Homo sapiens: one gene and its partners. The protein of the gene in region 2 interacts with the protein of the main gene of each other region in a biochemical or structural test. Each region holds a gene or a part of one and is shown on either strand. Other genes may lie near its edges.

What was found.
Region 1: the proteins of CTDP1 (region 2) and INTS1 form a complex in vitro, tested with the Homo sapiens proteins (one study listed by BioGRID).
Region 3: the proteins of CTDP1 (region 2) and INTS7 form a complex in vitro, tested with the Homo sapiens proteins (one study listed by BioGRID).
Region 4: the proteins of CTDP1 (region 2) and TCEA1 form a complex in vitro, tested with the Homo sapiens proteins (one study listed by BioGRID).

Annotation. Positions count from the first base shown.
Region 1 is NC_000007.14:1,473,389-1,480,412, reverse strand, and holds part of INTS1 (integrator complex subunit 1), read left to right. Parts: coding exon 1-96; intron 97-728; coding exon 729-983; intron 984-1,527; coding exon 1,528-1,687; intron 1,688-1,906; coding exon 1,907-2,047; intron 2,048-2,476; coding exon 2,477-2,660; intron 2,661-2,739; coding exon 2,740-2,863; intron 2,864-3,494; coding exon 3,495-3,619; intron 3,620-3,755; coding exon 3,756-3,843; intron 3,844-3,957; coding exon 3,958-4,184; intron 4,185-4,341; coding exon 4,342-4,465; intron 4,466-5,574; coding exon 5,575-5,708; intron 5,709-6,052; coding exon 6,053-6,245; intron 6,246-6,719; coding exon 6,720-6,847; intron 6,848-7,024. UniProt on the Homo sapiens protein: Component of the integrator complex, a multiprotein complex that terminates RNA polymerase II (Pol II) transcription in the promoter-proximal region of genes.
Region 2 is NC_000018.10:79,710,803-79,717,826, forward strand, and holds part of CTDP1 (RNA polymerase II subunit A C-terminal domain phosphatase), read left to right. Parts: intron 1-2,169; coding exon 2,170-2,336; intron 2,337-3,688; coding exon 3,689-4,726; intron 4,727-6,732; coding exon 6,733-6,874; intron 6,875-7,007; coding exon 7,008-7,024. UniProt on the Homo sapiens protein: Processively dephosphorylates 'Ser-2' and 'Ser-5' of the heptad repeats YSPTSPS in the C-terminal domain of the largest RNA polymerase II subunit. This promotes the activity of RNA polymerase II.
Region 3 is NC_000001.11:211,976,535-211,983,558, forward strand, and holds part of INTS7 (integrator complex subunit 7), read right to left. Parts: intron 6,277-7,024; coding exon 6,142-6,276; intron 4,657-6,141; coding exon 4,559-4,656; intron 1,978-4,558; coding exon 1,738-1,977; intron 1,011-1,737; coding exon of another isoform or gene 912-1,010; exon of another isoform or gene 298-911; intron 186-297; coding exon 48-185; intron 1-47. UniProt on the Homo sapiens protein: Component of the integrator complex, a multiprotein complex that terminates RNA polymerase II (Pol II) transcription in the promoter-proximal region of genes.
Region 4 is NC_000008.11:53,984,441-53,991,464, reverse strand, and holds part of TCEA1 (transcription elongation factor A protein 1), read left to right. Parts: intron 1-3,205; coding exon 3,206-3,351; intron 3,352-4,439; coding exon 4,440-4,496; intron 4,497-6,947; coding exon 6,948-7,024. Other genes in the region: LYPLA1-TCEA1 readthrough, read left to right, coding at 3,206-3,351, 4,440-4,496, 6,948-7,024.

The DNA of each region.
Region 1 (7,024 bases), on a different chromosome or scaffold from region 2:
AGCCCAGAGCAGCCCATAGGCCAGGGCCGGATTCGGGTGGGGACCCAGCTCCGGGTGCTGGGCCCTGAGGACGACCTGGCTGGCATGTTCCTCCAGGTAGCGTTGCTGCTGCATGTGGGTCTCCACCTGCAGCCCCTCTTCCTGCGTGCAGCCTTCGCTGCCGCCTCGCACGCACAGCGGCCTTTACTTGCGTGACCGCCTGACCCAGGCACGCTGCACACGCACAGCGGCCTTTACACGCGTGACCGCCTGACCCTGGCACGCTGCTTTCACGTAACACCCCCATGCTCTCAGATGGAGGCTAGGCCAACATTGGGGAAGGGGGTCGCCCTGCATCCTCCCTGCCATCCTTGCACACCCCTCTGCGCGGGGCACCCGGTTTGATGTGTACAGAAGCTGAGGTTGCAGGTCTCGCCTGAGGTCTGGCTGTTGGAGCCGGGGATCCTGCAGGCCTCACCACCTCCTGATGGAGAGCCTGGTGGTCCCTGGGCAGGCTCTGGACACCTTTGTTCTCTGGGGCAGCTCCTGGGTGTTGGGGTCCCTCACTGCTTCACATCACAGGTCTCAAGGGCCCTGGGCCCCTCAGGCCACAAGGTGGGGGCTACGAATGAACAGGGACACGATGGGACGCGGTTCTGGCACGGAGCTGCACCGGGCGCTTAGCCTCTCCGCTGCGCTCCTCCTCCTTCTCCTCCGCTTCCTCCTGACACTGGCCTTCCCCGTTCCAGATTTTCCCGCTCAGCCCGGACCCTCGGTGGCAGAGCTCCAGTCCCCGCCCCGTGGCCCTCGCCCTGCAGCAGGCCCTGGGCCAGGAGCTGGCCCGCGTCGTCCAGGGCAGCCCCGAGGTGCCGGGCATCACGGTGCGTGTCCTGCAGGCCCTCGCCACCCTGCTCAGCTCCCCACACGGCGGTGCCCTGGTGATGTCCATGCACCGTAGCCACTTCCTGGCCTGCCCGCTGCTGCGCCAGCTCTGCCAGTACCAGGTACTTGGGCGTGGGCCTCTTGCGGGGGAGGAGGGCAGTGAGGGCTCTGCCTCCCGCAGGACGGCCCGGGTGTCCTGTGACTGCTCCTCTGTGGGTCTTGGGTCTCAGTTTCCAAGTGAGAAAGGACAGTGCCCCAGGGAGTGGCGGCAGGTCCCCTTTTTCCAGTGAACATTCCCCCGGGACGGGAGGTGGGGGCAGTGCGGCGTCCGCCTGTTTGCACCACCCAGGCTCGGCGCTCCTGCCTTGCTTTCCCCATCTGCTGGTACCTAGGACTGTGTTTTACTTGGTGTCTGTGTTTACTTTTTCCTTTGAACCGCGTGGGAGCCCTCACCAGCTGGGGGGTTTTGAAAGGGTCTCTGTGAGGTCGTCTGGGCCCGTGCAGGGGAGGCACCGTTTCAGACAGGAGGCGGGATGAGGTTGGCCCAGGCTCCAAGTGCCGGTCGCGGCAGGTCTCAGCAGCCTCACGGGCCCTGCTCTGGGCCTCGGGTGCCGGGTCCCCGTGTGTCCTCTGCCAGGGTAGCCACGTGCCACTTTGTCCCCGCAGCGCTGTGTGCCACAGGACACCGGCTTCTCCTCGCTCTTCCTGAAGGTGCTCCTGCAGATGCTGCAGTGGCTGGACAGCCCTGGCGTGGAGGGCGGGCCCCTGCGGGCACAGCTCAGGATGCTTGCCAGCCAGGCCTCAGCCGGGCGCAGGCTCAGTGATGGTGAGGACCGCGCCGGGCTGGCAGACGGCTGGGGGGCACTGGACAGGGGCTCACTCAGAGTGGCCAAGCTGCCTGGCACCCCGAGGCCTGGGCAGTGGCTTGGGGGGTGGGTACCCGCGTGGGCCCAGGGGAGCCCTTCTACCGTGGGGCCTCCCTGGATGGGATACACCGATGGGGTGAGGGCTGGAGCCACAGGGCACTCACACAGACCTCCCACAGTGCGAGGGGGGCTCCTGCGCCTGGCCGAGGCCCTGGCCTTCCGTCAGGACCTGGAGGTGGTCAGCTCCACCGTCCGTGCCGTCATCGCCACCCTGAGGTCTGGGGAGCAGTGCAGCGTGGAGCCGGACCTGATCAGCAAAGGTACCTTCCTGGCACCATCCTCTTGGGCCACGGCGGCCCTGGGAAGACCCAAACCTGAGGCTCCTTCTAGCTGCCCAGTGGGGGACGGACAGTGTCTGCTCAGCACTGTCCCCGGAAAGTGCCCACAGAGGTCCCCTCCCAGATGGCTCAGGGCGGGGCCTCTTGAGAATGAGTTGGAGCTTCCTCCTTGGGGGGCCCCTGATCACTGCTGCACCCAGCAAAGTGAGCCCCGGCCCCGGCCGCACTCTCCAGCCCCGGCCGCACTCTCCTCTCCGGCCCCGGCTGCACTCTCCTCTCTGGCTCCGGCTGGACTCTGCTCTTGTGTCCCACACATGCTCACCCCACACCCCACCCTGGCTAGCCCACACCCACTCAGCGGCCCCCACCCGACCTGGGAGTGACCCACATGTCTCTTTGTCCCTTGCGCAGTCCTCCAGGGGCTGATCGAGGTGAGGTCCCCCCACCTGGAGGAGCTGCTGACTGCATTCTTCTCTGCCACTGCGGATGCTGCCTCCCCGTTTCCAGCCTGTAAGCCCGTTGTGGTGGTGAGCTCCCTGCTGCTGCAGGAGGAGGAGCCCCTGGCTGGGGGGAAGCCGGGTGCGGACGGTGGCAGGTGAGCTGGGGTGCTGCACACGGCCAGGGTGGGCAGGCGGGTGGCACCAGCCCTTCCCTGAGCCACCTTCTCCCTGCAGCCTGGAGGCCGTGCGGCTGGGGCCCTCGTCAGGCCTCCTAGTGGACTGGCTGGAAATGCTGGACCCCGAGGTGGTCAGCAGCTGCCCCGACCTGCAGCTCAGGCTGCTCTTCTCCCGGAGGAAGGTGGGTGGCACCCAGCTTCAGCACGGGGACCCACCCCAGGGTAAAGGCTCTTCCTGACCTGAAGTGCAGCAGCCTTGGCCTGGGCGAGCCTTGCAGGGGCCCCAGCACCCCCCCTGCTCTCAGGCCATGTGTCCCTGTAGCAACCCAGAGGAAGGGTAGGTCCCCCAATGGCCCTAGCAGAACCCAGGCCAGGGTCACAGTCACCTGTGGACCAGCACTGTGACCAGCCAGATGTGGGGATGGGGTGGGTGGATGGGGTGGGGTCGGCCCTGCCAAACCCTGTAGATCATGTAGGGGCCTCCATCTTCCCAAAGGGAATGGGGCTGTGGCCAGGAGAAGGGAGGGCAGGTGCTGGGCTCCCCACATCCTCCAGGGAGGGACGGCCTCACCAGAGAGGCTGCATGGAGCCCCGGGCACCTCCGCTGTGTGGCATGGCTCCCGTGGGAAGGGGCGGGGAGATGCAGCGCAGCCACCAGGAGCGGCCCTCCAGCACCATGACGGGGCCGGTGTTACCGGCAGCACCCCAAGCCTCGGCTCTCTGAGTGGCTCATTGGGGAAGCTGTCAGCTGACTTCAGCAGAGCCTGCCATTGGCCCAGGTGAGGCCATCCGGGCTTCTTCCTCCCTCCCCAGGGCAAAGGTCAGGCCCAGGTGCCCTCGTTCCGTCCCTACCTCCTGACCCTCTTCACGCATCAGTCCAGCTGGCCCACACTGCACCAGTGCATCCGAGTCCTGCTGGGCAAGAGCCGGGAACAGAGGTGGGCGCCTCCCTGTCCCCAACCTGGGCTGCGCGCATACTGGCCTTCACCAGAAATCTCCCAGCGCCGGCTCTGACTGGTATCTCCCATGCTGAGACGAGACACCTCGTGCTCTGGAACCTTTGCCTCCCCACAGGTTCGACCCCTCTGCCTCTCTGGACTTCCTCTGGGCCTGCATCCATGTTCCTCGCATCTGGCAGGGGCGGGACCAGCGCACCCCGCAGGCAGGTCTTGGGAGGGTGGCCCATCCGGGAGAGGGGGTGGCCCATCCGGGAGAGGGGGTGGCCCATCCGGGAGAGGCGGTGGTGCTCCGGGGCTGATGCAGGCACCCGTTACAGAAGCGGCGGGAGGAGCTGGTGCTGCGGGTCCAGGGCCCGGAGCTCATCAGCCTGGTGGAGCTGATCCTGGCCGAGGCGGAGACGCGGAGCCAGGACGGGGACACAGCCGCCTGCAGCCTCATCCAGGCCCGGCTGCCCCTGCTGCTCAGCTGCTGCTGTGGGGACGATGAGAGTGTCAGGAAGGTGACGGAGCACCTGTCAGGCTGCATCCAGCAGTGGGGAGACAGGTGCTCAGGCCCCCCGGCCCCAGATGCTGCCTGGGAGTGAGCCATGGAGGGGGTCGAGGCCCAGCCCTGGGTGGGTTCCCATCACGCCTGGTCCCGTCCACCCACCCCTGTCACTGGGGCCCCGTCCGCCTGGTGAGCCCTGCTCCACCTCTTCCAGCGTGCTGGGCAGGCGCTGCCGAGACCTTCTCCTGCAGCTCTACCTACAGCGGCCGGAGCTGCGGGTGCCCGTGCCTGAGGTCCTACTGCACAGCGAAGGGGCTGCCAGCAGCAGCGTCTGCAAGGTGAGGGCGCAACTCTGCCGCTCCCCGCCGCCGTCCCAGGTGCCCTGGCCGGGCAGGGAGGGAGGGCGGAGGCCACAGTGTACATGGCCATCGCCGGCTACCCCTCTTGCCCCTTCCCAGTCCGCGCCGCCCTGTGGCCCTGTGGGTTTGTCTGCGTTGAGTTTTATACCGAGGGAGCTTGCGGGTGCTCTGCTCGCACAGTCTGGAGAGTCGTGGTGTTGTGGGCACTGGGTGGCCTGCCATTGTGTGGATCGGCCGTTGGTTTATCTGTTCACCTGCTGGTGGACGTGGGGTCACGTTCAGTTTGGGGCAGTGACAGCTGCTGGGGACTCGTGCCCGGGTCTTGGCGGACGGCTGCGTCTGCTCCTCTCCAGTGACCCTGGTGGGGAGAGCTGGGCCTCCCGTACCCGCTTCCCCACCGCAGGCCGGAACCTGCAGCCTGTCTTCTGCTGGTACCACAGAGGGCAGCTGACTTTCTCTAATCATTTCTGCTTGTGGTTTTTTTCACTTATATGTCATTTTATTTGTTGAAATCACACTTGATGTGCAGTTTTGTGGAGGGTTTTTGAGGCAGGGTGTCTGTTGCCAAGGCTGGAGTGCAGCGGTACCATCATAGCTCACTGCAGCCTCAACCCCCTGTGCTCAAGTGAGCCTCCCACCTCAGCCTCCCGAGTAGCTGGGATCACAGGCACGTGCCACCACACCCAGTTACTCTTTTTGTATTTTTGAAAATAGAGAGGGCTATTTTCATTGCCCAGGCTAGTCTTGAACTCCTGGGCTCTGGTGATCTTCTGCCGCGGCCTCACAGAGTGCTGGGATGGCAGGCGTGAGCCACTGCGCCTGCTTGGCCGATGTGTAGTTTTGGCTTGTTTCCCGCTCATTGTATCATTTGGTGTGGAGCTTTGCTTTTATTCTGTATGGGGTTTTCCCAGAGGCTGGCTGTGGCCTGCCTGCCCTCCCGAGGTGCTCATGGAAGCCGTAAGGAGCCAGTTCCTCTGCTCATGGCGTGCCACGCGGTGGATCACGGCCACAGCTGGCGGCCAGGCTGAGTGTGGGTGGGCAAGTGAGGGGAGCCAGCGGCCCCGGCCTCAGAGCGCCCCTCCCTGCAGCTGGACGGACTCATCCACCGCTTCATCACGCTCCTTGCGGACACCAGCGACTCCCGGGCGTTGGAGAACCGAGGGGCGGATGCCAGCATGGCCTGCCGGAAGCTGGCGGTGGCGCACCCGCTGCTGCTGCTCAGGTGCTGTCCCAGAAGCCCTGCCCTCGCCAGACACTGGTTTAACCAGGGGGGTCTGCGGCTCTCCAGCCTGGGCAACAAGAGCAAAACTCCAAAAACAACAAAAAAAAGCATGTTCCCATGGGCTGAGCTTGACCGGGGGAAGTCAGGACTGAGCTGGGCCTCAGGTGGGAGGAGCTGGGTGGGCCTCAGAGAGGGGCGATCTCATCCCCACCTCCTTAGGGCAGGAGGGTGGTTGGGGGGCAGCACGGGGTCTGGCTCCCGGGGCAGGCAGTGGGGCCTTCCTGGGGACGTGCGCCAGGTGAGCCCGCCGGCCGGGGCTGACTGGGCCCTCACCGCGCCCGCAGGCACCTGCCCATGATCGCGGCGCTCCTGCACGGCCGCACCCACCTCAACTTCCAGGAGTTCCGGCAGCAGAACCACCTGAGCTGCTTCCTGCACGTGCTGGGCCTGCTGGAGCTGCTGCAGCCGCACGTGTTCCGCAGCGAGCACCAGGGGGCGCTGTGGGACTGCCTTCTGTCCTTCATCCGCCTGCTGCTGGTGTGTGCTCCCGCCGCCCGCCCTCGCGCTCCCTTCCACTCCCTCTGCTCTGGCCCAGGCCTGCCTCACCCACTCGCGGAGGGACTGGGAGGACCTCTGCAGCCAGGGCCCAGGCCAGGCCACCTGCCCTGGGGACCAGCTCCCACCCTGGGAAGCCCCTGCCTGCTGCCCCTCACGTGCCTGGGGGGCCCACGTCCTTCAGAAGCCCAGCCCAGACCCTCCGTGCTGTTCTCTGCGTGTCGCTTGTGCTACCTCGAGCCCCTCATCCATCTGGGCACATGCCCCAGACAGCCATGTCCACACCCTGACAGGCCATGCCGGCCACCCTTGGGCCTGTGACGCCCCAGTGGTTGGCAGAGGGGGCTCGTTGGCTGTGGGGTCCATGCCCTGAGGCTCTGGGAGCAGATGGGAGCACAGGCTCTGTTTTGGCCCTGCGGGGCAGAGCAGCTCGAGGGTGCCGCTTTTGCTTTGCAGAATTACAGGAAGTCCTCCCGCCATCTGGCTGCCTTCATCAACAAGTTTGTGCAGTTCATCCATAAGTACATTACCTACAATGCCCCAGCAGCCATCTCCTTCCTGCAGAAGCACGCCGACCCGCTCCAGTGAGTGCCCACGGGCTGCAGGGAAGCCTCGGGCCTCCGGCGAGGGTCCAGCGGGGTCTGGAGGGTGTTCCTGGGAAGGCCGTGTCGTGTCAGATATGCTGCTCCTGAGGCCGGGGAGGGCTGCTGAGCGTGGTGCTCATCCCAGGGCGCAGAGGCCGCCCCACCCTGTGCCGAAGC
Region 2 (7,024 bases):
CCCAAAGTGTTGGGATTACAGGCATGAGCCACTGCACCCGGCCTAGAGCAGTATTTCTGTATTGATGTTTTTTAGGAATTTAACATCCCCTTTCCAGTTTTCATTGTTAGCCTCAGAATACTTAGAAAGTTCCTTTCTAACCTGTACTCCCACTGTCTCCCAGGTGCCTGAGCCCTGGTGCTTGTGCAGGGCCCCCAATCCAGGCTCTGCCCCATCCCAATAGCCCTGTCCTGCCCTGAAACTGCCCTTGAGCTGGGCTTTTGTGTCTGTGGAGGCGGGGACTGTCATCCTCTCTGCCTCGTCTCTGTTAGACAGCACAATTCGATGTCAGCCCGCCACCTGACGTTGTGTATCTGTCATCCTCTCTGCCTCATCTCTGTCAGACGGCACTGATTCGATGTCAGCCCGCCACCTGACGTTGTGTATCTGTTTGCTTAACCAACCCTGGCATATGTGATCATTCTAGTCCCTTGACCTCCAAATTTTCATTCCTATGCGAAGACCTGGCATCGAGATTTGTGGTTGGAGAGGCAGGAGGCAGGCGTGTGTCCCCACAGTAGCCAGCTGTGAAGGATTTGGCCCTTTTGCCTCTGAGTATCCAGGGAATGGCCAGGGCTCCTGGGGAACTCAGCGACTGGACTTTCGGGCCCAGAACCCAGGAGGGCAGGCGTAGGGACGGGATGGCATCAGGGAGGTGGCAGTCGAAAGGACCCGAGTGGGCAGAGGAATGTGAATAGCCCCACCCCACGCACAAGCTCAGCAGCTCTGCGGGGCCACTGGTTTAGCGGCAGTTCTTGACATCAGCGTCAGCATCTGAGGTTGATAATTTTCTTAGGAGCTTGCTTGTGTTAATCCTACTAATAATTTACAAAATCCTAAGTCACTTGACTATTATGCCCATATTTTTGCCTTTTGCCATTTCTTCCTTTCCATCAGCTCCAGAGCCCCTTCCTGTCAGCTCCTCTGAGCCTTTTTGACAGGGCAGGCCGCTCCCCGCCCCTCCGCAAAGACTTTTTAATATTCTTTTATATGCTTTGACGTTTCTTGCCCACTGTATTCGAGGAGTTTCCCCATTTCCACCCGGAAGTCCGTCCTTGCTGATGTAACACCATGTCAGGTGTGGCTTGTTTTCCCGAGGAGCCTGGTGGCCACAGCCTCAGCTTCAGCCACTTCCTGGTTCTCGGTGGCCAGTCCCCACAGACTGTGAGACCTATGCTTGCTAATGTTAACTAAGAAGAGAATCTGAAAGTATTTACTTCAGAAACCTCCTTTTTGCTAGTTAGCGCCAGAGTGAGTAGATTAATCAGGGCAAAAGAGAATGAGAGGTGCTGTTAGTGTGTTACAGGGAAAAGTCACCCGAAGGCAGAATGATAGGATCGAATGGGGACATGCCCAGGATAGGCCCCAGTGGTGGGTACTGTGGTTTGCATGGAGGTAGCTGGAGGTCCGCTTAGAAATTCTGCATCAGCACTGGGTCTGGTTTTTGTTTTTTTGTTTTTGAGACGGTCTGGCTCGGTCGCCCAGGCTTAAGTGCAGTAGTGTGGTCTCAGCTCACCACAGTCTTGACTTCCTGGGCTCAAGCTATCCTCCCACTTCAGCCTTCTGAGTAGCCGGGACTACGGGCGCACACCCCCACACCTGTCTAACTTTTGTATGTTTTGTAGAGACAGGGTCTTCCTATGTTGCCCAGGCTGGTGTCAGACTCCTAGGCTCAAGAGACCCTCCTGCCAAGACCTCCCGAAGTGCTGGAATTGCAGGCATTAGCCACACAGCGCCTAGCCTGGTCTGTTTACAGAGTCAGCAAATTCTGGCCTTTAGGCTACCCAGCCTTGTTTGTACATGAAGTTTTATTGAAACATGGTCACGCCCACACGGTCAGAGTTGGGTTTCGTCCCCGTGGCCCGTAATGCCTAAAATAGTGACTCTGGCGCTTTAAGAAACAGTTTGGGAACTCCTGCCTGAAGGAGAATCGGAAACAGCACTGAAGATGTTACTGAGGTTTAAATGCGACCCAAACAGAAAGGGCTTCGGGGCGGTTGGTGTCCGTCTGATTAACCTGCTGTCTGCTGGTTACATGTGGATTAGAATCTTAAACTGTTACGCTTGGCAAGATGAATGACTACAACTTTTCATTATTATTTTTTGTAAATTATGCATTTTCACTTGTAGAAATCTCTTTCCTTGTGGAGACTCAATGGTTTGCATTATTGATGATCGAGAAGATGTCTGGAAGTTTGCCCCCAATCTGATAACTGTGAAGAAATATGTATACTTCCAGGGCACGGGTGATATGAATGCGCCCCCTGGGTCCCGAGAATCTCAGACGAGAAAGAAAGGTGGGTAACCTCCTTCCTGATTCTCTAGAAGAATTCACATTTGCTTATTGTTTAGCTCTTCTTATTTCTTATCTCTGTTTTGACTGCTATAAATTCAAGATACACTTTTTTTATTTGTGTTTCAGTAGAGATTATTGGATTTATTTATAGAGTACTGAAAAACAGGATATTAGGTTGTTTCAATTTGGGCTTTAAAAAAAATGGCCCTCACTTAAGCGTTTTCCCAGTTGAATAAAAACTAGAGGATGCTGTTTAACCTAACACATCCGAATAACTCCCTTCATCCCAGTTTTCCTTAAACACATCCCTGGGTATTGGGCCATAGTGTTCTGTAGAGAGAGTGAATGTGGGGGCGGTGGCTCTGCGGGGAATAACCGTTCCCCATGCGCAGTGGTCAGGCTGGGCGCTGGCTGGGGCCCCAGAGAGCAGCGTGGTTTAACTTGTCAGTCAGGCATGCAGCTGACGTCCACCCTACGAAAGTTAAGTGTTTTTTGATCTTTAGTTTTTTGAAAAATATTTTGAGGCACACGTTTATTGCTGTAGTCACTAAAATGGAACTTGGAGGTTAGGACCAGGGGAGGGTGAAACTAGGGGCATTCCTGTAGAAGGTAGAGACTTTCACCAGATGGGTGGGGTCAGCGTGGAGTTGCTGACTTCCTCCAGACCGTGGCTTGGGAAACCGTGGCCATGGTGGTGCCAGGTCATCCGGGGCTTACAGTCACGGTGGCGCCAGGTCTGCAGGGGCTTACGGCCACGGTGGCGCCAGGTCTGCAGGGGCTTACGGCCACGGTGGCGCCAGGTCTGCAGGGGCTTACGGCCACGGTGGCGCCAGGTCTGCAGGGGCTTACGGCCACGGTGGTGCCAGGTCTGCAGGGGCTTACGGCCACGGTGGCGCCAGGTCGTCAGGGGCTTACGGCCACGGTGGCGCCAGGTCTGCAGGGGCTTACGGTCACGGTGGCGCCAGGTCTGCAGCCCGGAAACCTCTAGTTGTCCTTACAGGTGGAGGATCCCTCCTCCCCCAAATCCAAAGCTTTTTGAGTGCCCACATGGTGCTTAAAGGAAATACTCATTAGGGTATTTTGGATTTTTTGGATTGGGGATGTTCAGCTGGTAAGTTTAACGCAAATACTCCAAACTCAGAAAAAAATTCAATATCCAAAACGTCCCTGGTCCCACGCACTTCAGGTAAGGGGTGCTCACCCTGTCCGGCCTCTTCACAGCAAGGTTGCCAAGGCCTGGTCTAGAGGGTGGTGGACTTCACAGCCATGGAGAAGGGTGCTGCTTTAACTTGGAACGTTATTTAATGTTTAATGCTAAATTGCGGTAACTTTTCCTTTTGCATGCATATTTAGTAAATCATTCTCGAGGCACTGAGGTCTCAGAGCCATCTCCGCCCGTGAGAGACCCTGAGGGGGTAACGCAGGCCCCTGGAGTGGAGCCCAGCAATGGCCTGGAGAAGCCTGCACGGGAGCTGAACGGCAGCGAGGCCGCCACCCCGCGGGACTCACCCCGCCCCGGGAAGCCAGACGAGAGGGACATCTGGCCCCCTGCCCAGGCCCCCACCAGCAGCCAAGAGCTGGCAGGCGCTCCTGAGCCCCAGGGATCCTGTGCGCAGGGTGGCCGGGTGGCACCGGGACAGCGGCCTGCCCAGGGTGCCACGGGCACTGACCTGGACTTTGACTTATCCAGCGACAGCGAGAGCAGCAGTGAGTCCGAGGGCACGAAGTCCTCCTCCTCCGCCTCTGATGGCGAAAGCGAGGGGAAAAGAGGCCGGCAGAAGCCGAAGGCTGCCCCAGAGGGAGCCGGGGCGCTGGCACAGGGCAGTTCCCTGGAGCCGGGGCGGCCTGCAGCACCGAGTCTCCCCGGAGAGGCCGAGCCTGGCGCGCATGCCCCGGACAAGGAGCCTGAGCTGGGTGGGCAGGAGGAGGGCGAGCGGGATGGCCTCTGCGGCCTGGGCAACGGCTGTGCCGACAGGAAGGAGGCGGAGACCGAGTCACAGAACAGCGAGCTGTCGGGGGTCACTGCGGGTGAGTCCCTGGACCAGAGCATGGAGGAGGAGGAGGAGGAGGACACGGATGAGGATGACCACCTCATCTACCTGGAGGAGATCCTGGTCCGTGTACACACTGACTACTATGCCAAGTATGACCGCTACCTCAACAAGGAGATCGAGGAGGCGCCGGACATCCGCAAGATCGTGCCGGAGCTCAAGAGCAAGGTGCTGGCAGACGTGGCCATAATTTTCAGTGGGCTACACCCGACAAACTTCCCGATAGAGAAGACGCGGGAGCATTACCACGCCACGGCGCTGGGAGCGAAGATCCTCACTCGGCTGGTGCTGAGCCCCGACGCCCCTGACAGGGCCACGCACCTGATCGCCGCGCGAGCTGGTGAGTGCTGCCTCCCTGTGCCCTGGGCATGGTCAGGCCCGCGGGCTCCTTGCAGGCACTCCTTAGAGTTGGCATTGCTGTTTATCTCACTTTCAATTTTCAGAAACATTTCCCAGAATCACCATCTTTTAAGAATAGATCATGACAGTGGGTGAAATTGGAGTTTGGGCACGTTCATGCTTTCAGACCGCAGTCATCGCACACACCATTCAGGGGTGGGAGTTACTCGTGTGTAGAAAGTTCAACCTTCTCCCTGGAGTAAGCCATGGCCGGGTTGGAAAACAGGGAATCAGCGATAGGGACGTAGTGGAGAAATTCGAGGCAGGAACAGGAGTTCGCAGGTAAAAGATTGACAAACCCTCTGAGTTAGAAAACTAAATGCAAGGTTTCAGCTGAAACGTGCACAGAAGGACACGTTGTGGCTGGGAGGGCGGAGGACAGGCCTGCTGTCTCCCGACGGTGAAACCTGTCCCGGACGGGGCAGGCTGCTCTGACATGTTGAAACTTCCGCCGAATAAAACAACCTTTCAGCAATAGGTGATTCTTGAAGGAAGACTTAACACCCCGGTGCTTAAAAAACCCAAATACCTCGTTATTCTAGTTATTCTGTGAAAATGCTCCCATAAGCACCTGGATTTTCCGCGAATGAAGATTGCGGTTTTTCTCCTCCAATCTGCTTCCTGTCCTGGCGGCGTTTCCTGAGAGGGCTTCTCAGTGCGTGGCCCCGCCTCCGGGGCTCAGGAAAGCCTTGTGGGGTGAGCTCATCCCTGTCCACGCACGCTCCCTGACAGCAGGTGTGGTCTTATTTGAGGCCACGGCTCTGGCACGTATCATGGGGCGTTGGACACGCATGTGCTCAGTAAAGCATTTGAATCAAGGGTAAATGGAAGGTTCCATCTCAGTGTGAAATAGCCAGGTGCTAGCTGCAGGGCAGAGGCGGGCTTTCCGTGGAGCCCAGCGAGACCCTTGATCCCAGGAGAAAGCCAAGCCCTGGCCTCCTGTGGGCAGTCAGACCCTTCTCTCCTGAGCGTGGAGCCGGGCCAGGCCGGGGTCCTCCTTGGCCCCTCAGGTGCCTGTCTGCCCTGCCGCGTGTCTGCCCAGCTCCTGACCCTTCTCTCCTGAGCATGGAGCTGGGCCAGGCCAGGGTCCTCCTTGGCCCCTCAGGTGCCCGCCTGCCCTGTCCTGTGAGTGCCCAAGCTCCTGGCCCTTCTCTCGCATTCCTTCCTTCCCCCTGAATTGTGCTCACGTTTCCTTTTTGCTTCTGTGTACGTGGCCTCACTGTTGAGAGGCTTTGCTGAACACATGCTAAGAGAGGTCCTCCTGCTGCTCAGGTCACCCGCTGTGCCCGGCTCCCCGTCTGAGATCCACCCCTTCCCACCATGGCTGCCTATCCCTGGCCTGGCAGATGGGAACCTGCAGTGGGCAGCCCTGGTGGGGTGCAGCCGGGTGAGGGCCCTGGTGGGGTGCAGCCGAGTGAGGGCCCTGAGCCCTAGTGGGGTACAGCTGGGTAAAGGCCCTGAGTCCTGGTGGGTACAGCCGGGTGAGGGCCCTGAGCCCTGGTGGGCTGCAGCCGAGTGAGGGCCCTGAGCCCTGGTGGGGTACAGCTGGGTGAAGGCCCTGAGTCCTGGTGGGTACTGCCAGGTGAGGGCCCTGGGCCCTGGTGGGGTGTAGCCGGGTGGGGGCCCTGGTGGGGTGCAGCCGAGTGAGGGCCCTGAGCCCTGGTGGGGTACAGCTGGGTGAAGGCCCTGAGTCCTGGAGAGGTGCAGCCGAGTGAGGGCCTTGGTGGGGTGCAGCCGGGTGAGGGCCCTGGTGGGGTACAGCTGGGTGAGGGCCCTGAGCCCTGCAGGGGTGCAGTCAGGTGAAGGCCCTGGTGGGATGCAGCCGAGTGAGGGCCCTGAGCCCTGGTGGGGTACAGCCAGGTGAGGGCCCTGGTGGGTGCAGCCGGATGTGGGCCCTGAGCCTCCAGTGCTGGCCGGAACAGCCTGACGCAGCCGGGTCTCCTGCAGGCACAGAGAAGGTGCTGCAGGCACAGGAGTGCGGACACCTGCACGTGGTCAACCCTGACTGGCTGTGGAGCTGCCTGGAGCGCTGGGACAAGGTGGAGGAGCAGCTCTTCCCGCTCAGGGACGATCACACCAAGGCACAGAGGTGGGTCCTCGCTGCACCCAGCAGGTCCGTGCCAGGCGTTCCCTTGCTGGACAGCTGTTGGTTCATGCACCTGGGCAGTGCCCCTCATCACCCGGACGCCCCGCTCATGGCCCTCGTTCTCTTCCTCCGACAGGGAGAACAGCCCTGCGG
Region 3 (7,024 bases), on a different chromosome or scaffold from region 2:
ATCTGACATTTCCAGCAACCCAGTTCACTCAGAAGGGTAACACATACCATTCTGGAAGCCTGTCTGGCAATACGGTATACAGTCCATCCATTGGAGACACTTTCAAGCTGCTGCTTAATTACTGCCTTACTTTCCACAGACAATGCCTTCTGACTTGCAACAAAAATCACAGTAGCCAAACTCACCTAACATTGGGCAAGAAGAAAACCAAGAAAATCATTTAATTTTATTCAGTGTCATTGATAACCTACCCCAAAGGGAGGAAAACTAATTAGAGCCCACTGCAAAAGAACAAAATTTGTTTTCCAATGACATTTATTTAATTTTTTATTTTGAAGTCATTAATTTATTCCATTCACTCAGGGCACTCTTTATAACAGCAAAGAAGTAGAAGCAATACCCATAATATGAATAAATTATATAACATAATCAAACAATGAGATACGTAAATAAAATGGATAAACTAGCGACAGACTTACCAACATAGATGACAAGCAAAATACGCAAAAATATGCAAAATGCAAAAGATTACAAGTAGTATGATAAAGTTTACATAAAATTAAAAATATGCAAAATACTGCATATTACTTAGGGATATACACTTTGGTAGTAAAAGAATAACAGGCATGAGAATGATAAATACCAAATTCAGGATAGTGGTTACCTGAGAGAAGGGAGGAGATGCTATCAGCAAGGTAAACAGGGGGCTTCAACTAAACTGTTAATACCTTTTTCTTAAGCTAGATAATGAATGCAAGAGTTTTCACTGTATTATTCCTCAGATTTTTTGAATATTATGTTTCATAATTTAAGACAATCTTAAGGTAGTACTCACAAAAAAGATATCAGGACCGTTAGTTCAAAATGCCACTTCAATAAAAAATAAACTTAGCTAACTGCCTCTTAATATTTCAAAGCTGATTCATATAAAGATCCATACATTTGGTCATCAAGGTAACCTTTTCTGGCAGCAAATGATGGGATGGGGTCAATCTTTTACACAATTCCCTCTGGAGGATTAAACATAAAACAGGCTTGAATAAATTATTTCATTATATTTTTTCCCACATTCTAAATTAAGATGAACAGAACAATATGGAATGGCAACCTTACAACTTTCATTTAATTTACAATTATTTAGAATGTAGCCTACTCTCAGTCCTGCAGAACTTTTCAACTAAACATTTTATAGCTTCCACAGCTTCTGTTTCTTTCTAAGCATGTACCTTTCCCAACCTCAAGGGTCTACAGAAGCCTAAACTGGATCCTAAACAGCTAAAGAGGTCCTGGAATGGAAAACATAAATTTGGGCTAATTTATGGTCATTATTATCATTAGATTTTTAACTTCTATTTTCTAAAGTACAAAACAGGGTTTAGTTCATTATTTACTCTGTATAAGAAAGATAAAAATTTCATTTTCATTCTGTCCTTTGCAATAAAAAAAAACATGAGATTGAAGGCTTTGGCTATACTAGGCTGATTTGACAGGGTTTCGGAAGAAAGCAGTTTTAGAGGTGAACAAAACACGGCTTTCTAAATCAAAAGTGAAAAAAGTAAAAAGCTCATAAAGCCAATTCTATTTTGACATCAGCACACTCTTTGGTCTTAGGTAATGAATTTAACCTATTGTTTGTTCTGTTTTTTAAGTAAAGTCAAATAGTAATGTTGACTTAAAAGTAATTCCCACTAGACCAGATCCTAGTCATTCAAAGGAGATTCAAAATGGGCTTTTTACCAGAAGTTCTTGTTGCTTGTCTGTGGCTGATCGTCCAATCACCTTGTACAGCTCCATGAGGTCACCAAGCATCCCATCACCCAGCACCGGCAGTTGCATGGCAATGGCTGCCAGGCAATGGCACATCAAAATCCGGGCAGCGTCTTGAGCACTGTGCAATTGAGTCAACAAGGTCTCAACTACTGACTGGCTAAGATGGGGCCTGCCCTTGGCCAACTTCACCATACAGTTTAGAGCAATCTGCACGCCAAAAAGAAAATGAACTAGTTACATTTTGAAGATACAGATGAAGCTTTAAGGAAAAGAGCTTTGTACAGGTTACTGGGGAAACTCAAGGGTGAGGTTTCTTGTAGGCATAACATTTTACTTCATAAGAAATATGAGGTACTGAATCTCACATTAGGGTTTGTGAAGTGCACTACGTTTAAAATAACAAATTAGGACTGCACGTCAACCACTCATTTCAATCTAAGACTATTAAAATACTTTTAAGAAAGATGGAAATCATAAGGAATAATGCTGAAGAGGCAAATATAGGCCAAATGTCACCATCACTGTATTATCATTACTTTTCAGGAACTGCTTCTGAAGTGTGGCTTGTAAACTATGCCAGCATCTCCCAGAATGAAAATAAAAATATAGATTCCTGAATTAACATACGTGTGTGTGTGTGTTGAGGCTACTGAGGTTTCACAGTTTTAAAAAGACGGCTTAGATGACTCTAAGTACACTGAAGTGGGAAAGAGGTTCCCAATTTTCTCTTATTTCTCAACTGAAATCTAAAAACCAATTTGGCTACAGAATTTCTCTTACCAAGGCCTTCTTAAAGGCATCACTAATATCCAGCCAAAAAACTAGAAACCTAGAAATATTCCCACTTTTACATAGCTAACAGATTCTTTTGTCAAGCCTCCAATATCCACTGTTGGCACTTTTCCATTCTCTCTACCACATCATAAATCTCTTCCTAATTCCAATTTCTTGAAAAGATGGGCCCTTCAATCCATCCTTCACAATGCAGCCATGTAGCCATCAGTGGGGTGTCAGGCACACACATAACTTTAGAGTCTGATAAATGCAAGGGCTGAAGCTCAGCTTGCCCCTTATTAGCTAGGTGGCTTTGAACAAGGTACTTCTCTCTCTCGGCCTTAAGTTTCTGATGTGTATAAGAGGAGAACACATTTCATTATAGGGTTATTGAAGGACTGAAACAAATGTATATATAAGTCTTCAACAAAGATTGGCACATAATAGACATTCAAATAACAATAATAATTACGACAAAGGTTACCATTACTTTAAAATTATATTATCTCCTCATTACCTATAGAATCAAAGCCATAATACCATGTTATTTGATATCCTCTATGACTGAACTACTTTTCCAAATCTCAAATTATTTCACCCAGCCACAGTGGGCTAGTCACCATTCTTCCACCACAACAGGTACATTCTTACTTTCAAGTCTTTTATAACAGCAGTCATTGGGCTCAAACAATCTTTCCTCATTACTGTAATTCGATTCCATCTTTCACAACTCAACTCATATGACATTTATTTAAAGTCTTCCCTAATACCCTTGGTTAAAGTTAATCACTCCCGACTCTGACCTCTCATTAGAACTGCACTTTTTTTGTGAAATATCAGAGAATGTATTGTGTTCCGCTTGGTATTATAGTCCCCTATATAAACATCAGTAGCCTATTCTAGATGGGAAGCTCCTCTATTACAGGAACCTTTCTTGGCCATCTATGTATGTCCCACTGTGCTGAATCCAGCATTTTACTGACACCCACAATTGTTGGAAAAAAGATTTGCTTTTAAAAAAAGTCTTAAATGTACTGTGGTTCCAAGGGGATTCTGAGGATCCCCCTCAGAATGTGTTGCCAAACACATGTTGTCTACTTCCCTTCTCTACTTCTTATTAGCTGTCACTTAATGATGTTACTATCTTTATTGTTCATCACTATGACCATATCACAACTTTCCTTAACCTGCTAAAATGAGCCATGACTTCCTTGAAACCACACCTTAGACAAGCTAACGCCAATGTTTATCTAACAGTTTCTTACTTCTATTAACTATGCTTCTCCTCATTAATTTTGCACCATCACAAATTATATTTCACGTTTCACTCCAAAAAGAGTAGTTTCATTTCACATTTTATTTATTTATTTTTTTTGAGACAGGGTCTCATTCTTTCACATAGGGTAGAGAACAGTGGTGCAATAATGGCTCCCTGCAGCCTCAACCTCTCGGCCTCAAGCAATCCTCTCACCTCAGCCTCATGAGTAGCTAGGACTATAGGTGTGCCCCAATATGTCCAGCTAAATTTTAAAAAATTTTTCTAGAGATGGGGTCTCAGTATGCTGCCCAGGCTGGTCTTGAACTCCTAGGCTCATGCAATCCTTCCACCTTGACCGCCCCAAAATGCTGGGATTATAGGCATGAGAGCCACTGTCCTGGCCTCATTTCACATTTTAAAAATCTTGCATATCTCTAAGATGATTTCTGTAACTAAGTGAAGGTGAAAATTCCTTAAAATATTCTTCCCTTGGCTTATAAACTAGGGCTTATACCACTGGGAAATTAATGAACGCTTATGTTAAATTAATGAACATTTATGAGTCGGCTGCAGTCATGTCATCAGTTTTTTTGTGGTTTTATCAGTTAGATTAAATCAGTGTAGTTTTATCAGTTAGATTTAATCACTTAGATTAAAACTTCTAAGAGTACAGGAGCTATGTCTGCTTAACTTTGCTTTCTATTGCCTAAGACCATCATATATATCTATTACAACTTAATAAATAAAAGTTTTCACCTTTAAAGTGGCCTGAGCACCTGGACTATCATCTTGACTACAAAGTACCAGTAGGGATTCCAGGCCAAAGACAGCATCTTGTTCCAGTGCCAAAAGATCTAGAAGAAAAACAGTAAACTTTATGATGGTCAAGTGATGTGTGTACAAACACACACACATATACATGCATACACACTCTCTTAGAAAAAACATTAAGGAGTTTAAGATATAGGGAATTATTAAATGGATGAACCTAACCTTCCTTGAAAAAGTACATGTGGCATTACTTCTAGAATGTAAAGTCTATCTTCAGACTTTATTTCTACCACTTTATTGAAGTATTTATAAAAATATACACATTAAATCAAGAGCTAAAGCCACAAAGCTATAAATAAAGCAAAACTGAAATAGTGTCACCAGCTTAGCTAAGGAAAATACTAAGAACAGCAAACTATGCAGTATGTGTTAATCTCCCTAATCAGAAATAAATTATGCAGGTCCATTTTTACCTAAGATATAACAGTTTTCAGCTTCTAATGAAAGCTGAACCACTTTTAGGAAATAATAAGGTCTCCACATAACCTTATTACTGTTTTAAGTCTGACCATAAAGAATGAACCTCTTAGATGTCTCATGAAATAGCAGCACTAGAACATCTTTTCACTACCATAGGGTTAAAATTTCTCTGAAGGTTTTAGAAAGTTCTGAATATATTAGTTACCTTTAGGTTAATATATTTCAGTGTTGAGAACATACAGCAGTTTTCTGTGTTACATGGAAGAAAATACTCTTTGTGATGCCAATATAAAACAGGCTTAATTATCCAAATCAGAATCAACTTTCAACTTTAAGAAATGTTTCCTGAGTGCAGGAGCTTGGCAAACAGAGTAAAGGCTAGTGAAGGTCAGGTTGCTAGAAAAAAACAGGTACTAGGAACAAGCAGTGCTGAAGGCTAGGGGGGATAAGAGGAACCACTGAGCTTGTAATCCTTAATGAAGATCAAAATCAGCACTGAAACAGATGGAATATCCAAAATGCATTTCTTGTTCTTGAACACAAGTCAAAAGATGTTAGGTAGACAACAAAATATGTGCATTATTTTCCTTGCATGTCCTCCTTGATTATGCAAGTCAGTTTAATGCCACATATACCTAGAGTAAATTCTGTGAAAATTTAATTCACATTGGTCTGTGAATTCACTTGCCTCTAGGTGAAACTATTTGTTATTTAAGTCCCTGGAGAACCTAAGTAAATTTTCTAGGTTTTTGTATAAGTGAACATACCACCTTATACAAAAGGGGTAGAGTCCTAAGCAATCTTTATCCACCATATATGCACCATATATGCAAAGGTAAGCAGTGGAAGGAAATGGGCAATGCTCCATAAAACCTTTCAATTCCACTCCCAAGGTCTTCATCTCTTTATTATTTTTCACAAGGATAAAGTAGTCTTAAGAACACATGCTCTAAGAACACTTTGAAAGGAGTCAATTTGTAGATCAAGGCACACAGGCTAAAAATAAGGGATTAAAAAAAAATCAAACAGAATTCTGTCCAAGGTCTAAACCAAAGTTTATACGTAATATCAGTCCTGATCAAACTTACCCTTTTCTTGACAAGAAACAGTTATATTAGTTAGGACTCTAACTCCATGAGCTGCAATGCCCCTGTTATTATGGTAACAGCACTCTTGGGCTAATTTGACTAAATCAGAAGATCTGGGAGAAGAACTCACATTTCCTAAAAAAGCAGAGAAAAGTAGTAGAAATTGTAATTCAAATAGTTCAAAAGCAGTTCAGCTCATAGGTTCAATTTTCTTAATTTTTGAGAAAAGTCTCTAACAATAAACTTCAACAAAATTTCCTACCACAATCCCACTATCAATACATATCAGCATTTCTCTCCATTAAGGTACTTGAAATAGGTATGTGCCAACAGTTTCGTAATGACTAAGATCTAAAATCAACGTATAATTTCTTAAAAAATATTAATAAAAATTGACTAACAGTACAAAAGCCAAAACAACTATCCTAAGAGTTCAAATGAATTCTGATTAAAACAGGTATCATTATAGGCCTCTTGTCAGACAAAACCATACTTTCAAGATAGGAGAGAAAAGAGAAAAAAATTTAAATTTGCTTTTTTTTTCCATCTCAGATTGCTGACACACATTTATACCTCATATGAATTCGTGATTGTAGAGCTGGAAAGAATTTTGGGATCATCTGATTTAACACACCCTATTTTTACAGGTGGAATCAAAGCCCAAAGCCCCAAAATTTTAAGAATCTTGCCATTAAGTTCATAAAACTTATCAGTCATGTTCTAATGCCCCTGTTATTATACTCTTCTGCTTTATACCTTAAATTCCATGCTATAGATTGCAGCAATTTTTAAAATTCACATTTGAAATTCTGGAATGCAAGGTTCATGTTGTAACTATTGTAATTTACAGTAGAGAAGCCCTCAGTTATAACTGAATAAGCTT
Region 4 (7,024 bases), on a different chromosome or scaffold from region 2:
CCTTGGCCTCCCAAAGTGCTAGGATTACAGGCCTGAGCCACCGCGCCCAGCCTTGTTTTTATTTTTTTTTTTGAGACGGAGTCTTGCTCTGTTGCCCAGGCTGGAATGCAGTGGCACAATCTTGCCTCACTGCAACCTCTGTCCCCCAGGTTCAAGCGATTCTCCTGTCTCAGCCTCCCGAGTAGCTGGGATTAGAGGTGCACGTCAACACACCCAGCTAATTTTTGTACTTTTAGTAAAGATGGGGTTTCATCATGTTGACCAGGCTGGTCTCGAACTCCTGACCTCAAGTGATCCACCCACCTTGGCCTCTCAAAGTACTGGGATTACTGTCGTGAGCCACTGCGCCTGGCCTCTCGTTGTCTTTTATCAGTTTTACGTGCTTGACGTGTAGGTATAGAGCCTGTCTGCAAAAGAAAATTACTGTATGTGAAGTCTGATAAAGTAACTGATTGGTATCTATCTACACCCCATCCCCGCCCCAACACACACAGAAATACAGGAGGATTGAGAAATGAATTTTGAGGAGTCATGTAAAGAAAGATAGAAGGTTAAATCTAAGTTGCTTGTAGCTAAGCAGGATTTTATATTTTGGGTGCAAGAATTTAAGAAGAAAGTAATGTGTTTAAATGCTTAGAAAGGAAGGATCAGAATGTAGGAAGTGGGACCAGCAGTAGTGAAACTAGTGAGGAAAAGTTTCCCTCAGCCCATATGGGCAATTTCCCTTGGTTCCTGTGGAGCATTTGGCTACAGACACAGAAGCAAAAGCATTTAATCAAAGTGTTTAAGAACTGGGTTTTTGGCTGGGTGTGGTGGCTCACACCTGTAATGTCAGCACTTTTGGGAGGTCAAGGTAGGGGGATCACTTGAGCCCAGGAGTTTGAGACTAGCCTGAGCAACATAGGGAGGCCCTGTCTCTACAAGTAATAAAAAGCATTAGACAGGTGTGATGGCACATGCCTGTGGTCCCAGCTACTTGGGAGGCTGAGGCAGGAGAACCGTCTGAGTTTGGGGGTCATGGCTGCAGTAAGCCATGGTTGTTTCACTGCACTCCAGTCTGGGTGACAGCGTAAGACTGTCTCAAAAGAAAAAAAAAAAAAAAAAGAAAAGAAATGAGTTTTGGGGCCTGGCACGGTGGCTCAAGCACTTTAGGACGCCGAGGCGGAATTATCACTTGAGGTCAGGAGTTTGAGACCAGCCTGGACAACATAGACCCTTTCTCTACCAAAAAAAAAAGGTTTGTTTGTTGGATTATTTTTTTTTTTTGGAGACAGAGTCTTGCTCTTTTACCCAGGATGGAGTGCAGTGGCGTAGTCAAGGCTTTCTGCAGCCTCAACCTTTCAGTCTCAAGCGAGCCCCCTACTTCAGCCCCCAAGTAGCTAGGACCACAGGTGCATACCACCATGTTTGGCAAATTTTTAAAACTCTTTTTGTAGACCCTGGGTCTCACTATTTTGTCCGGGCTGTTCTTGAACTCCTGGGATTACAGGCATGAGCCAGCTTGCCCGGCCAAAAAATATTTTTAAAATTAACTGGGCATGGTGGCATGCACCTGTAGTCCTAGTTACTCAGGAGGCTGAGGCAGGAGGATTGCTTGAGCCCAGGAGTTCAAAGCTGCATGAGCTGTGATGGCACCACTGCACAACTCTTGCTCTCTTCACCACTGTGAAAAGTCTTGCTCAGTTGCTCAGGCTGGAGTCTTAAAAAAAAAAATAATAAATGGGTTTTTAAGCATTAGTTTGCTCATTCATTTATCACTGAGAGGCATTATGCTACATAATGAAAATACAAAGAAAAGTAAATCCTAGTTTTTGCTCTTGAGAAACTCAGTCTGATAGAGAAGAAAATGTATGAAAAGTTATCATATACAAACCTGTGTGAATCAATATTTTGGGAATACAGGGGGAAATCAGTGAAGGCTTCAAAAAGGAACTGACTAAATTTAAAAGGTACTAATGTCCGTCTGACCCACAGGCACCTGTTTGTGAAGTTTAACAGTGGTTATGTTTTGGAGAGAAGGCAAGGGAGTATGTTCTTGTAGCATTGCAGCAAACCACATCTATGGATGGTGGATGATTTAATCAGTCTTTGAAAAGGGTTATGGCAGCTGTTTTCAATGTGATAAAGCTTAATTGTAATCATGAAGATTATTTTGGAAAGAACCCATTTTAGTGATAATCCAACGTAAGAAGCTACTCAGAAGCAATTGAAAGGATTAGGTTGACTGGAAAATTATAAAACTGCCTAAATGTTCATATCGAGGTGATGTTTCTGGGGAGAAACACACCATTTTGTAGCCTCATGACTCATCAGTACACATGGTATTTGTCTCACTGGGGAACTCACTGTCTAAGTGGAACAAGGTTTTCCTTTTTCTTTTTGTTCTTTTTTTTTTTTGAGGTGGAGTCTCGCTGTGTCACCCAGGCTGGAGTGCAGTGGTGCAGTCTTGGCTCACTGAAACCTCTGCCTCTGGGTTCAAGCGATTTTCCTGCCTCAGCCTCCCAAGTAGCTGGGATTACAGGCGTGTGCCACCACGCCCAGCTAATTTTTGTATTTTTAATAGAGACGGGGTTTCACCATTTTGCCCAGGCTGGATTTGAACTCTACTGGCCTCAAGTGATCTGCCTCTCTTGGCCTCCCAAAGTGCTGGGATTACAGCTGTGAGCCACCATGCCCAGTGAAACAGAGTTTTTCAAGCATTCTCTCTCTCTATCTCTAGTTTTGGTTGAAAGCTGTCATTCTCTGGTGTGAACCTGGGAGGTGGAGCTTGCAGTGAGCCGAGATTGCACCATTGCCCTCCAGCCTGGGTGACAGAGCAAGACTCCGTCTCAAAAAAGAAAGCTGTCATTCTCTGGTCCCATCCCTTCATCCCTCTCCTTATACCAAGATCATTGCTTTTCATTTATTGTACTGAGCTATAATGGGTATTTTCTCTATTAAAAATATTGCTTAATATTTAAAATGAGAATCAAAGATAAAATGTTTAGTTCAAAAAAAAGGCATACTTGTCACTTTACTAAATTGTAAAATTTTTAACTTCTTTTTAATCTGTATGCAGGCAATTTTTTTTCCATCACATAAAGGTCACTGAGATACTGTGTCATTTATTTAGACCCCAAATTTTGTTTTTACAGCATGATAGTAGTATTGTTACTTTGAAAGGATTGTTCTTGATTTCTTTTTGGGGTGTTTGTGCGTATTTCAGTACTTCCAGCGGCAATGTAAGCAACAGAAAGGATGAGACAAATGCTCGAGATACTTATGTTTCATCCTTTCCTCGGGCACCAAGCACTTCTGATTCTGTGCGGTTGAAGTGTAGGGAGATGCTTGCTGCAGCTCTTCGAACAGGGGGTAAGTCCAGTGCATGTTATTTCTCAGTCCTTTGGTCACCACCCACAACCACTGCCATCTCCAACTCCATATTGCTGTTTGATGAGTGTTACCCTGTGGATAGCCCACCCACTGCTGCTTAGCTTGGGGAGAAGTTGTTGCTGATACGGGTCTGTTAAGGGGGAGAGGAGGAGGAATACTGGGGCATTTGCTTATTACTATGTAATTGTAAGAAATAGATTCCCTCTAATACATGGATGTTTTCCCTGATTTCATAGTAATGTACACTTTTTTCTCACAAATCTTTTGTTTCCCCACAATTTAATCTGCAAACTACATACCCTGATCTTATATTGAGAGTTAACAATACTGAATTGTTGAATAGTATGACATATAGTATGAATGTTTTCCATTTTCTAGTTAGAAAAAGGGAGGGTGAGTCTTGATTTATATATGGGAGCTTAATTTAATTTGAAAGTATCCAGTCTTAACATGTAACATTTGGATTTAAAGTTTTATATACAGGAATATTTGTTATTTTATACGAATTCATCCTTTTTCTTTTCTCTCATTCTGCACCATGGCTAGTTTGACCTGATTTTCTCCTTACTCTGCCCTTTCTACTTTGATTTCCTGACTGTCTCTTTTATTTTTTCTGCCTAGTTTATTTCCTTCTATCCTCTTGCATATTTGTATAGCAGTCTTCTGAGTGTGTCTGTATATGTGATTGGCAGATTAACTAAATGATTTCTTTGCATTGAAGCCTGAGTCACAGGAGACTAGACAGTTCTTTCTGTAACTTTCTCTACTCTGCTGGAGCAGCCAGAATTTATGGAGTTACGAAAAATGAATTGCCTGCTAGATCAGTTACTTCCTGTGCCTGAGGGATCAGGAATCATCAGTGCAGGAGCACTGTGGGTATCAGGTGAAGCCCAGAAAAGAAGTCTAGCGGGCAGTGAAGTGATCAGATTCTAACGAACTAAACTGAACGGTTTCTTTATGTCAGGCAAATGGGGTTTAAGAAATAGGAATGCAGTTTAATTACCTGGTATTAGAATTTTCTTTTAATCTGTTACAATAATTTGACAATTCTTTATGCCTATTTTTAGATGACTACATTGCAATTGGAGCTGATGAGGAAGAATTAGGATCTCAAATTGAAGAAGATATCCTTTGTGTGTATATTCATAATTGTTTTTTTTAATAAGTAATATTTATTGAACATATGCAAATGCCAGGCACGGTTTTACATGCAGTAGTCCTTCCAATGAATTAGGTGCTCTCATCCCATTTTACAGAGAGAAAACAGAAGCAGAAGAGGATTGGTCATTGTTCTAGATCACACAGCCTGACACTGACAGGGCTGGGATTCCATTGTAGGGAATTTGGCTCCAAGCCCATGACCTTGACCACCACGCTAGACTTTTTCCTTCATGTTGAAGCTGAATGAACTAGAAACAGCGAAGTTTAAAAGGACCTGGCTCTTTGGAAACTGAAACATATAAATCCCTAGTAAAATTGCTTCAGATAGCAGGAGAGTGAAAATATGATTGAGAACAAGAAAGGCAAACCGATAACATAATTAGAAGAGATTACAAAATACATGAGAACATTGGGTGTATCTCGTTGGCAATTTGAAAACCTAAAGAATTTCGCTTTCCTAGCAAAACATGAGTGTCCAAGATTGACTTTATGTACTTGGCAGGACAGGCTGTGTTATATTATGGTGACAACCTTGAAATTTCAGTGGCTTAACACCACAGAGGTTTCTTTCACAGATTAAACTGGACAAACAGGAATGTATTTGTCCTATATGTTCATCACAGGCTAGCTGAGGACTCTGGGCTTTGGGTCATTGTCCTCTAGGACCAGGCAGGTGGATTGGCCATTGTGAGTGGTGATGTGGCAGAAGGTAAAATGGATAAATTGCATACTGGCTTTCAAAACTACTGCTGAGGAGTGACATCTATTACTTCTGCTACCAGCCAGAAAGGTCTCTTGGTGTCACACAACTTCAAGTGGTCATAATTGTTTTAAGTAATCTGCTAGCTTAATTTTTCCTGTTGGTATAGAATTCAAAGTCTTATTCTTCACTTTTTATCTTGATTGTATTGTTTTCTTGGAAAGGAGAGGGACATCTATGTCATTTTATTTGTCTTGTTTTTCCTGTTATTGAAAAGGAAAGTACAGTATTGATGGCATTTATGACATTTAAATTTTTCTGCCTTGTAGATTGAGACTGTAGTGTCTGAATTTAAGTTGTGCAAAAGGGCATGGAAAGCACACACATATAAATGTGAAGACTTCTCAGTTAGGGGGACCTCAGAGCACACACAGTCACCTGAGCTCATTATCCCAGAGGAAGCGTGTTCTTGCTAAGCACCGGGAAAGGGCTCCAGGAGAGGGGTACTGTGTGTGAGTAGGGGCAGGGAGCATCTAGGTGGCTGTGTAACATGAGATTGTCCTGGTTGAGGAAATGGCCTTATTAGGAAGGGAGCTGTTCCAGGGTTCAGCTTTGGCAGTGGCCTCTTCTGCAGAGAAGAAGAGCCTGCTGAGGTAGCTCCTGCTGAGCTGGGGGAGGAGAGGAACCCTCACGGCCATGCTGAATGGTCTCTTCTCAGAGACCCTGTGGGAACTGTGTGACCAGAGAGACTTTAGGATCCTTAGTAGAATTCGGATTTGGGCAAGTAAAGCTTGAATAAGTTCAAGCTCCTTTTCAAACATGTGCTTTCTCATGTTGAGTACTTGAGTTACTTTTTGAAACCCTGTTGACTTGCATACTGCTGGCACTAAACATTTAGGAAATAAAACATGACTAGGCCGGGCGCGGTGGCTCACGCCTATAATCCCAGCACTTTGAGAGGCCGAGACGGGTGGATCACCTGAGGTCAGGAGTTTGAGACCAGCCTGGCCAACATGGTGAAACCCCGTCTCTACTAAAAATACAAAAATTAGCCGGGCATGGTGGCAGGCGCTTATAATCGCAGCAGCTACTCGGGAGGCTGAGGTAGGAGAACTGCTTGAACCCGGGAGGTGGAGGTTGCAGTGAGCTGAGGTCCAGCCTGGGTGACAGAGTGAGACTCCTTCTACCCACCTTCAAAACAAACAACTACTTTACAGTGTAAAAGTAATATCACTATTATTCGCCAATTACAGCTCAAGGAATTAGATATAGTACCTTGTTTTTAACATACTCTAAATTGGAAACAGTTGTCGTGAATTGCTTAGAAATTTCAGGTTTGTTTTTTTTTTTAAGATGGAGTGTCCCTCTGTCGCCCAGGCTGGAGTGTAGTGACCTGATCTCAGCTCGCTGCAACCTCTGCCTCCCAGGTCAAGTGGTTGTCCTGCCTCAGCCTCCCGAGTAGCTGGGACTGCAGGCACCTGCCACCATGCCTGGTTAATTTTTTGTGTTTTTAATAGAGACGGGGTTTCATCATGTTAGCCGGGATGGTCTCGATCTCCTGACCTCGTGATCCACCAGCCTCAGCCTCCCAAAGTGCTGGGATTACAGGCATGAGCCACCGTGCCTGGCCTCAGGAATTCTTATTTTGGCAGAACAGGAAAAAAAAGTGATCTTACTTTTGTAATTTTGCCTTTTTTCCTTAACGGCCTGGTACCTATATATCAAGAAATAAGGAATACAGACATGAAATACAAAAATAGAGTACGAAGTAGGATATCAAATCTTAAAGAT